Linked DNA regions of Homo sapiens. The protein of the gene in region 2 purifies or fractionates together with the protein of the main gene of each other region. This does not show direct contact. Each region holds a gene or a part of one and is shown on either strand. Other genes may lie near its edges.

Evidence for each region.
Region 1: the proteins of FRMD1 (region 2) and ITPR3 purify together in Homo sapiens (co-immunoprecipitation; 3 studies listed by BioGRID and IntAct, with this or other methods). This does not show direct contact.
Region 3: the proteins of FRMD1 (region 2) and TRAF7 purify together in Homo sapiens (co-immunoprecipitation; 3 studies listed by BioGRID and IntAct, with this or other methods). This does not show direct contact.

The regions. Positions count from the first base shown.
Region 1 is NC_000006.12:33,619,117-33,622,716, reverse strand, and holds the start of ITPR3 (inositol 1,4,5-trisphosphate-gated calcium channel ITPR3), read right to left. Parts: upstream 1,396-3,600; 5' UTR 1,115-1,395; coding exon 1,026-1,114; intron 929-1,025; exon of another isoform or gene 849-928; intron 1-848.
Region 2 is NC_000006.12:168,077,658-168,081,471, forward strand, and holds the start of FRMD1 (FERM domain-containing protein 1), read right to left. Parts: upstream 1,556-3,814; 5' UTR 1,438-1,555; coding exon 1,225-1,437; intron 1-1,224.
Region 3 is NC_000016.10:2,158,666-2,162,479, forward strand, and holds part of TRAF7 (E3 ubiquitin-protein ligase TRAF7), read left to right. Parts: intron 1-3,814. UniProt on the Homo sapiens protein: E3 ubiquitin and SUMO-protein ligase that plays a role in different biological processes such as innate immunity, inflammation or apoptosis. Potentiates MAP3K3-mediated activation of JUN/AP1 and DDIT3 transcriptional regulators.

The DNA.
Region 1 (3,600 bases), about 130 Mb from region 2:
GTTGTCCTCCAAGGCCATCAGAAAGAAGGCACCACGCGGCTGGCTGGTCCCACTCAGTGGATCAGCAGAGGAGGGTGGGTGTACCCTAGAGGACAGCCATGTGTGGTTGGGAGGATGAGACAATTTAACCCAGGCCCCCAGACTGTAAACGGGACAAAGATAGCCGACCCTGCCCTGGGGTCTGGCTGGAGAAACCACCTACGCTCCCATCCAGCGAATCACATCCAGCTGCTCCTCTGAAGATAAACCCATCCTCTCTACCTAATTTCTCTCCTGCCCTCTCCCTGCTACAGGCCTGGCCCTCTCCAGGGACGTGAACTGATTCCCTGTTCATCCAGCCCAGACCCTGGGAGGTGGCGGCCAGAATTAATTAATGTTTGTGAAGTGCTGGAGAGAAGCTAGAACCAAGGACCCAAGGGCGCCAGATGACCGGCGCAGGAAATTGAATGGGAGAGGCGGGGAGAAGGGGCAGCTGGCCAGGACCTTGAAGCCTGGAAGGGGAGGGCTGAGAAGACACTCCTACTGAAGCTGGGAAGAACAGGGAGAGAGCTGTGAGGAGAAGGTGCGACCCCTCAAAGGCACCACGGGATCGGTAATAGAGGATTACGGGCTCCAAGCTGAGCCTGCCCACTCCCGACAGCTCCGCCCTACCCTCAGAGCCGGGCACGTCTCGGCCCGGCTGCCCTTCCCCAACTCAGCCTCCAGCCACCCACCTGCCCGCCCCCGGGACCACCTGCAAAGGAAGCCTCCGTCCCTCCGCCCCCTCCAAAGGCGTGCGCGGGAGGGTAGAGGCTGCGCCGCCGAGGGAGGCTCCTCCTGCCAACTCCAGTAGGGAGCCCGAGTCCTACCTGAGCAAACACTTCACTTCCTTTCTGTAAAAGAAGGAGGCGAGCCGTTCCCGCTCCTTGAGACTAGGGGGACGTCCAGGCCTCTATCGGGGGGCGGCGGCTGGACGCACGCAGCTGGCACCAGGGCCCACGGCGCCCCCTCTTTACCCGCGCCCCTCTCGAGCTCGGCTCACTCACCCCAAAGTGCTGATGAAGCCATTGACGGAGCCCTCGGCGTACAGGGAGACGATGTCCCCGATGTGAAGAAAGCTGGACATTTCACTCATGGCTGCGGCCCTCCGGGGCCCAGGGCGTGGGGGGCGCCTAGGGGCGCGTGGCCAAGCTCAGTGCGGAGGACTGAGGCGTCCGGGGAGCGGGGAGGGGTACGCTCCCACCTCGGATCCCGACGCTCGGTGCGGCCGGGGCGGGCTGGCGGCCACGGGAGCCAGGAGGCGGCTCGGCGGGGCCCGGGGTCCGGGTGAGGAGGTGCCCACGTCTTGGCGCGCCCGCCGCCCGCCCGCCCCGCCCGGCCCGCGCGTACCTGCAGCGTAGAAGGAGCAGGAAGTCTGGGGCCACCACACACATGCAAATCCCGCCCGGGAGGCGGGGAGGCCACACCCCGCCCCCCCTCCCCCCGCAGCTCGCCCGCCGGCACCCATGTGCACCCGCCTGCCTTCCCGCGCCCCGCGCTCCTCGCGCGTCCGGGGCCCGGCCTCCCGGACGCCGAATGCGCCGCCAGCCCTCCTGATCTCCAGAGGCGTCCTGCAAGGCACCGGGTCTAGGGGGCTCTCGGAGCTGCCATCCCTGGGAGGCCCAGGCGTAGTGGGGAGCTCTCCGCCCTCGGGGTTCCCGGACTATCTGCACCCGGGCCCTCGGCTGGCTAAGAGCCAGTGCAGGCGCCCGCGGAAGGGGGAGTCCAGCTCTCCGGCGGGCGTCACCCCGGAGCCGCTCGCGGAGGGCGCGCCCTGGAGCGCCCTGGCCGCGGCCGCCCTGCGGCCACCGCGCGGTCTCCGCGCCCAGCTGAGAGCAGGCTGGCGCCCAGAGGCGCGCTCATCCCTTTGCAGAGCAAATTCGGGATTCATTTTTCTCAACGTGAAAAGCCTTTTCATTGCACAATAGAAAGTGCTCAGGCTTGGAGGGGAAATGAAGCAATGGGGTGGGTTTTGTTTTTTTTCTCTCCGCATTCCTGTGTACAAAGAGATCCAACTTCCGAATCAGTTCAGCCGCTCCCTCTCCAGGAGTTGGCTCCAAAACTCTTGGCTCCTTCCGTCTTTCCTTTCAAAAAAAAAAAAAAAGCAGGGATGAAAATTACCTTCGCTAGTTGACAGAGCACCCAAGCGCTAACGATGCCAAGTCTGGGTGCCGGCCCCCTGGGAGTGACCCGCTGCGGCAGCGCCGCCAGGCTCTGGCTCCCGAAGTCCTGCCCTCAAATTCGCGTCCCGGGCTCGCTTACTTTCTGTTCTGTTCCCCGGTGCTTGGGTGTTTGCTTCCTAGTCCTTTATTTGAACGCCTAAGATAGGGTGCCCATTGCCACCGCCATCCGATCACTTTTGCTCCCTTCGGACCCCCCAACCCCACTTCCTGAGTTGTGGGGGGGCGTTTGTCCCTGGGAGAGAGGGAGGAGGGGACTCGGTGACTGAAGCAGGAAGAAGAGAGGCTAGGGGAGGGGTGGAGACAGCTAAAAGCAAAGAGACAGCTGCTGACCCTGGGAGGAGAAGAGCCCCAGGCAGTGGTTTTTTTGTTGTTGTTGTTGTTTTGTTTGTTTGTTTGTTTGTTTGTTTTACGAAGACCCCCAGGAACGATGTGGGAGGGAAGGACACCTCCAGGATCGCTAAGTACCGTGTTTTACAGTTTTGTTTTGTTTTTTCACCATGGCAAACAGTAACAAGTTTTACAGCAGACCAGTCCACACCTTCGTCTATATATAAGCAAAACAATAGATCACCAAACAATACTTACTTTTATGACCTTTGATGCATGCTGATATTTTCTATTCTATTTCAGTTGTGTTCTTGTTGTTGCTTTAATGCTGATTGTAACCCACTGAACTGGTTTTTTTTAATGTCCCAAATGGGTTGCAAACTGCAGTTTAAAAAACCTCATCCAGTCCACTGTGCCAAAAAGAGATGACCAAAGCCCAGAGAAGGAACACCACCCATCAAGGGCACACGGCAGGTTCCTGGCAACTGGAGGCAGAAGCCAACCAAGCCTCTGATTTTTAGCCGGGTATTCTCCTATTACCCCACACCAACTGAGCCACAGCGATGGGTCACTGGAACCTCACTGAGAAGGGGCAGCCCCTGGGACAGTTTCACTTGCTCCCAGGAGTCAGGCCTCCTGTATCATCCCCAAAAGTTAGAAGGGAAAAATATGCCTTCATTCCATAAGCATTTATTGAAGGCCTGTGATGTCAGGCCTCTGCTGGGCACCAGGCTCTGATCAAGCTGTCAGCCTGGGCCCAATTGCCTTTTTCCCTTCCCCAGACCGTGAGGATGAAGAGGGACAAGTTGAAAACTTGCCTCCAGTGGCCACACTCAGAACTTGTGCCACAGCCACACCCAGGAATCCACCTCCTTCCTCCCCTGACATCCATATAGATGGTTCCATAACTCAGCCGAGGTGTAGCAGCCAGGAATGGAGGTCACTCCACTTTGGGTCTCTCTGGACTAAAGCACATGGCCTTGTTTCTCCCCACCCCTCCCCATCCTAGGAATACTTAGAGCCTCTGTCTCTCCACCAACCAGGAGGTCTCAGAGGTGAGGGCTCTGGGCCC
Region 2 (3,814 bases):
GAGCACGATTCACCTGTTCAGAACAGGCGGTTCACTATGTTCTAGCTGCATGATCCCTCAGTTAAAATCTTACCGTGAAGTTCCGTGCAAGAAACCTAAAAGTTCCAGCTCTTATGGGGTAGGGGGCCAAAGCCCCAGCATCTTCCCCACAACAGGTCCTCTTATGACCCCTCCCCCAGCCCGAGGCACTGCTGGGGACCCCAGGAAACTACAGGACATCCCCCATTAGCTCAACTCCAGCTTCTCGTTGCTGGGTGGGGACACAGAGTCTTGGGGAAGATTTTGCCACAAACATAGATGTGGGCGTTTACGTAAACACAGAACTCTATCCCGAAGCAGACAAGAGACTCCCAGATTCCCAGGGGACTTGAACCAGGATATTACTAGCAAGTCATACTCCATTCCAGGTAGCAATGATACATTAGCTATGCAGAAAGTCATCGTTCTTCAACAAACCACTCTCATTTTAATTGCCACATTTTCATTATCCACATTAATCATTAAAATGAAAGTACCATCTCAACTCCTGTCGCCATGAACTCAACTAAAACAGGTAGACAAAATGGGGGAAAGGGAAAAGAAAAGGAAATAGAGAAGCATAGAGATGGTGACGTCTGAACACAAGACAGGAGCTGCTCCTTGGAAACCGGCTTCCTGGCGCTCTTCCCTCAGCGCTCCCTCCCGGGAAGGATGTGCTGAACCATAAACTTATTTCTCACAGCAACGTCTATCAGGGATGTTTCCTTCACAGGCCCAGTGAAAGGGCTGGCCCTTGACACCTCACAGACACCTGGCCTAAGCAGAGTGAGGCGGTCCAGGGACTTTCCATACACAGGCTGTGTCCTGAGGCTCTGCTCACCCCATACCCCTGCTCACCCCCACGGCCCTGCTCACCCCCACGGCTCTGCTCACCCTCACAGCCCTGCTCACCCCCACGGCTCTGCTCACCCTCACGGCCCTGCTCACCCCCACAGCCTTGCTCACCCCCACGGCCACCCAGGGCCCTGCTCACCCCCATGGCTCTGCTCACCCCCACAGCCCTGCTCACCCCTATGGCCACCCAGGGCCCTCCTCACCCCCATGGCTCTGTTTACTCCCAAGGCCATCCAGGGCCCTGCTCACCCCCACGGCCACCCAGGGCCCTGCTCACCCCCACGGCCACCCGGAGCCCTGCTCACCCCCACAGCTCTGTTTACCCCCACGGCCACCCAGGGCCCTGCTCACCCCCACGGCCAGCCGCAGTTGCTCCCGGCTGGGCAGCAGCACGAGGACATCCCTGTGTTCCGAGGCCATCGCGTCCATTCCCAGGGTCGGCTCCTGCTGACTGCATGCAGGCCTCTCAGGACTGGGTTCCATACATCGCGCCCCTGAAGGAGGGAACGTGTCAGGGTTTGTCCGGGCGGGGTCTATGCCCCTCCCTCTCGGGGGCACCGCCATGCTGTCGTTACTCGGCCCTCCCCCGCCATGGGTCGCAGGTGGGTGCTCAGCACCTCCCAGATCACAGCTGTGCTTTCCGGGACCCGCCCTTGCCGAGCTTCTCACTGGGAAGGGAATTGAGAGGGAAGCCTGGGCTGGGAATCCAGCATGGCCAAGCCAGGACAAGGGTCAGAGCTGCAAATAGCTGGGTGTGTGGAGGGCGCCAGGAATGCAAATAAACAACCTCAGGCTGGGCACCCGCCATGCAGCACTCCCATGCAGGGTAGCTCAGCAGCCAGCCTCGGTGTGGGCCCCGTGAGAACCAGGCTGGGGGAGACAGGACCCAACTCCTCCACCTGACAACCCCTATCTCCTCAGGGTGCCTGCTCCTTCTTCTATAATGTGGAGAGGGCTATGCAAACCCCATGGGCACAGATGCCAGAGCCAGGGCTGCTGGGGAAGATGGAGCAGCAGCAGGGCAGGACGAGGAGGGCGGGAGGAAGGCAGCCTGGGTGGGCACCCTGCCCCACACACCTCCTGTGGCATCTGTTATCGACCTCAGGAAGCAGCACAGCTGCCGTTCCTGGACAGGTTCTGCCAGGAGGGACCCTGGCTCCCTTTAGGGGCTGGAAACTGAGGACACTTCCTTCCTTGTCCAGGGCCAGCAAATCCCTTCCTGCCTGCAGCAGCTGGAAGGCCAGGAAGGGGGTCCTGGCTTGCGTGGACAGCAGCCGGGTGCATCAGCACGAGGGGTGGGGACATCTCCCGCAGGGCCTGGAACCCCTGAGGCCGCTCAGCAGAGATGAGCAACGCCTTCGAGCTCTTTGGCACAGTGTTAGGTGGGGAAGGGACCCCAGGATCCTGCCTGGCCCTGGGACCACCCAGACCTTTGGGCGCTGCAGGTCAGGAGAGGCAGTTCCCACGGGCCTGGGCTGTGGAATTCTGTCCTCAGCCGTGAGCTCCATCAGTTTCCTGCCATGGAGTCTGGGATGCTCTGGGACCTTCCTCTAGTAAGGGGTCTGGACCTCCGGACGGGCCGTTGTTCATCTTAGGAAATTCGCACTCCAGCCGCCTTAAGGCCTGGCCCGGTGGGTTTAGGAAATTCGCACTCCAGCCGCCCTAAGGCCCGGCCCGGTGGGTTGAGAAGATTTAGGAGGCTTAGGCCTCACCTCCCCCGGACCCTGGACTGACACTGGCTCCCTCCCTCCCTCCCTCCGCTCAGATCCAGACCCTTCCCAGACCCTCGAGGCCACACATGTGTGCCCAAGACAGCAGTGGCGGTCTCTTTTCTCTCCACAGCAAACGTAGAGCTGTTCACTATGGAAGATGTGGGGATCCCTTTAGCTGAGAGCACAAAAAGTTTTAAAAATGGCAAAAAAACCACAAAAAAAAACAGCCCCAGAGAGCAGAGGCTGGATCCTCATGGCCCTGTGCCACTGGCGCCTGAGCAGCTCGTCCCTGTGCCGGGTGCCCTCAGCCGCTGCCTGGAGTCACAGTGCCGGCGTATCAGGAAGGGCGGCAGCAGCTGCACCTCTCAGGATGCCTGGGCGCAGGACAGTGGCAGAGGGCAGGCAGGGGCCAGGGTTGGGGGGTGGCAGAACACCACCGGCACACACAGCACAGAGGGGACAACAGGCACCAGGACCCCTCGGTGGGGAGAGCCGGGGACACGGTGGGGAGTTGTGCTGGGTGCACTAATGATCAAAGCGATGGTTCCCCACGTGTGTGCAGGTGCTGGTGTGTGCGGGCGCTGGTTTGTGCGGGCGCTGGTGTGTGTGGGCGCTGGTGTGTGCGGGTGCTGGTGTGTGTGGGCGCTGGTGTGTGTGGGCGCTGGTGTGTACAGGTGACCGTGGGCCAATGAGCTCCAAACATCATTAGTGAGAAGAAAAGGAAAAGGAATGGAAACTCCACATTTGTATTGATAAACACAATAAATGGATTCTTGTCAAAGCAGGACGTCCCTGGCCCCAGCTCCTTCCTTCCCACCCAGAGTCTCAGGGCCACACCGTTGAGGTTCAGACCTCCAGTGAAGGCCGCCGTCCATCTGAGTGCCAGGGAGAGCTGGGCTTGGGAAGCCCCCGTTGTATTCCTGGGAGAGCGCGGCTTTTTCCTGAAAACGTGCTGAGGCTCCAAGGCAAGGGTGGTCGCCATGAGTACCTCCCGCCAGGGCACTGAGGGGACACCAGAACCTCTGTCCTCAGCTCATCAAGAAGACAACTTTGCACCCTGAGAAGGCAGAGGCGTGACCGGGCCCCAACACTGACCCCACCTCTGAATGTCTTGTCTTCTCGACTGGCCTGTTCGTGATGGAAGAGGCTGGCCTGCCACGTTCGTGATGTCAGGGCCGGGCAGTGGACGGGCAGAGGCCGCGAGGAAGAGGAGACCACCGCCCAGATCT
Region 3 (3,814 bases), on a different chromosome or scaffold from region 2:
CTCCCTGCTGCTGCAGGGCAGAAGGAAGGAGGGAGCCCGGGAGACCGAGCCACACAGGAAGCAAATGAGAACACAGCGTGGGACTGGGAAGCGTGGGCTCGGCGGGGGGGGGGGGGACACTGCCACCCTTGGCTCTTGGGCAAAGCTCACGACCTGTTTCTGAGAGTCTGAGGCCCACTTGACTTGGGTGAGAGCCAGGAACGCACTCCCCAGCCCAGAGCTGTGAAGCTGGGGTCTCTTCCTGTGCCCCAGGATACTCTCCCCACTCTGGATCCCAGCAGCCTCATCCTCCAGGAAGCCCTCTGGACTTCCCCTCGACTGGGCCAGGTCCCCACACAATAGACAGCCATGAGATACAGGGGAAAAAAGGACTGAGAGATGTTGCCAGCCCCCAAGGGGTCGGAGGGGCAGCAAAAGGCATCCTTACTGTGAAGTTGGGGTAAAGCCTTGGCCGAGCTGTGGGGACCCCCTCCCTGGAGCAGAGGGAGATACGGACGCTGGAGAGGCTTGGCCAGGGCAAGACAGGCCTGGAGGCTGAGTGGATGCAGTAGGAGCAGAGCTGGGGGAGGAGTTCAGAGGCCTCTGCAGAGCTGGGGCTGTGGGTGTTGGGGGCAGGGACAGGCAAGGGGGTTCGCCGTGCTAGGAGGGAAGCGGGGCCAAGCCGGCCTCAGACCAGGGCCTGCTGGGGTTCTGAGGGGATCCTAAGGACCAAGGCTGGCAGAGGCCGGGGCACCCCAGGAGCCTTCGACGTCACACCCTGCCTATTTGGGATGGAAAAAACGTTCTAAGGGACGTCAGGGAACAGCGGCGGAAGTGCGTGTGGCTTTGCTATGGCAACCAGGCCTGTTTCTATAGAATTTAGCGGCCTGGGCTTGGGCCAGGGGGCTGAGGCAGGGGCTGGGCTGGGGCGGGCAGTCTGTGGGTGCCCTGGGCAGGCTCTGTGATGCCAGGGGCCACGCTCGGAGCTCTGGCCGCAGTCCAGCCAGCCGGCCACACACAGCCCTGTGGCAGGCGGGGCGGAGGCTTCTGGAGCCGTCCCAGGCTCCTCCCAGGGCAGTTGCAGGCCTCACAGGCACACCCACCCATGGCTTGCGCCCCACACATGTTCAGGGGACCCCCACACCCCACCTGCTCCGGGTTGCTGGAGGAGCTGCTTTAAGGCCGGGCCTGGCCCGAGCAGGGAGCTGCATCTGGAAGCCCCCATCTCCCCCACTCAGCAGGGCCCCCCAGGCTGCTGCCAAGTGGGCGGGGACCCCTGACCCAGACCCCCTCCAGGTGTGTCTCCAGGGAAAGGGGTGGGTGTCCGCATCCCACATGCCCCCAGGGCGATGCCCCAGCAGAGCCCTCTAAGCCCAGCTTGTGGGAGCTAGGGAGGGGCTCCTGAGGGATTTGCCGAAGAGGGGCTGGGGTGGAGGCAGCGAGGCGCTGAGGAAGACTTCCACTTCCTTATTGCACAGTGGGTGCCCCCAGGGCCCCGGAATCCCTCCTACGTGAATGTGGGGTGGACAAAGACCCTGGGCCTGAATCCCAGATTCAGGCGAGGTCAGGGAGGGGCTGCCCTGCGTTGGCCCCAGCTGGAGGGGACGGTGGGGGGCCAATCCTGCCCTTCCCCTCTGCACGGTGCTGACCCACGCACCTCGCCCCTGAAGGTCAGCACTGGCCTTCCCCAGGGTGGATGCTGCGCTTCCTCAATGACTTTTCTCTTTCAAAGATCGAATACTCCTGGAGCATCCAGCATGGGCAGTGTGGACGGGCAGGTGGTGTGGACGGGCAGGTGGTGTGGACAGGCAGGCGGTGTGGATGGGCGGGCGGTGTGGACGGGCGGGAGGTGTGGACCGGCGGGCGGTGTGGGTGGGCGGGAGGTGCTCGGGCAGGCGGTGTGGATGGGCGGGCGGTGTGGGTGGGCGGGCGGTGCTCGGGCAGGCGTGGTGGGGACATGGAAGGGAGGGGTAGGGGGGCTGATGGGGAAAGCCCTTTCTCAGCCACTAGCTGCCCCCATGGCTTTTCCCGGTTTGGGAAGAGTCTCTCATTCTATGGAACACACCCCCACTTCCCCAGCACTGGGAACTGGAGGGCAGAGAGGCCAGAGAATTGAAGGGGAATTCTCACTCCGGTTGACAACTTCCTGCCCGGCCACCCCCCAGCCTCGATGACTGTGGGGTGGGGAAAGAGGCACTCTCCCTCTGGGGGGCCAGGGCATGCCCCCAGAAAAGCCTCCCAGCCATCAGGGGATGCTGAGCTATTGTGCTTTCCAGTTGTGGCCCAAGGGGTCCTCTCCCTACTGGGGAAACTTACTGCAAAACCCAGTCCCTGGGGACTGGGCTGAGGGGAGGCCTCGGGCATCTTGCTCAATTCCGAGGTGCGGGGATGGATCCTGCCTTAGGGCGGGACACAAACGTTCCCTGGCCTCCAGCCCCAGGGTCCCGCCCGCCTCCATGTCCCTGGCTGGGGCTGAACACTGAACCCGAGTGAACTGGGAAGCAGCCTCCTGTGCAGAGTATCCCCCTCCTTCCCTCCCTCCTTCCGTCCCCCTCCCTCCCTCCGTCCCCCTGCTTCCCTCTGCCCCCTCCCTCCCTCCGTCCCCTCCCTCCTTCCGTCCCCCTCAGCTGGCGCTCGATGGGGTCTTGCGCACACCCCACAGATCCTGTGGTGTTGTCCCCGTGGCCCGGCTGCTGTTGGCCAGCTGGGACTTTCTGGCTGATTTGCACATTGCCCTGCGTGCCTTTCTGTTCACCTCACTTCAGAGTGAGGGGGAAGCCAGACAGTTGCTCTCCCAGACTGTGAGCAACAGGCACTGAGGCCAGCCCGACCCATCCCAGGGGAGTGCCTGCTGGGGTCCTGGCCACCTGGGCCCCCGGGCAGGCATCACTGGCAGGGCTTGCAGCTGGCCCTGGGGCCCCGGAAGCTTGCAGTACAGGGAGCTGATGGGTTTGTAAAATGCAGGTCAGTGTCTCCTAGTGGCTGCCCGGTGATCCCCTCCCTGCTCCCAGAGGGCAGGAGCCAACCTGGGGCTCCCAAAAGGGCTGAACCTCCTGTGCCGAGTCATGGCGCCCTGCACTTCAGGCTATCAGGGCCTTACCCCAGCTGGGACATCCTCACCCCAAGCACAATGGCAAAAGGCAAGCCCTGGCCAGCTCTCCCCGACCTTCCTGCCGGGAGCTGCTGGAGACGGGATAGACATGTGCCAGGGCAGAGCAGCCTTGTAGACACACCACGACCACACCTCTGTCCCAGGGCTGACTCCTCTGAGCCTGGCTGCAGGTGTGTGGCACTGCCCACACTCAGGAGCCCCTGCCTCTTCCACAAGAGAAGTCCCCCGAGAGCCTAGTCTGGGTCACACAGGGCCAAGCCCCTCGAGTCGCAGTGGGGCCTGGGGAAGGCCGAGGGAGGCTTTGGCCAGGCCCCATCTCCCGAGACCATGGGACGCAAAGATCAGGTGGGGCCAGGTAGCTCGTGGCGCTGCCAACTGCAGGGGCTGAGATGTCGGGTTGAGCCCGAGTCCTGAAGGCTGAGTGGCTCCAGGGTGGGTGGCCTTCCAGGTGGCATTGGAAGGGACAGGTGGGCCTGGGCAGCCTAGAGAATGGGAGAGGAGACAGCAGGAGTGGTAGACAGCCCAGGAGCTCAGGTGCAGGGAACCAAGGGCTTGAGAGCCAGCCCCTCCCTGCACACCTGTAGGCCGGGCTGGGGGGCCCCAGGCCAGACTGTGGGCACGGTGGTGGGTGATGAGTGGCATCTTGAAGGCGCATGCAGGGCGGGCATGGCCAAAGGGACCCAGTCAGGAGGGACTGATGGAGGAGGTACTGGAGCCAGCTGG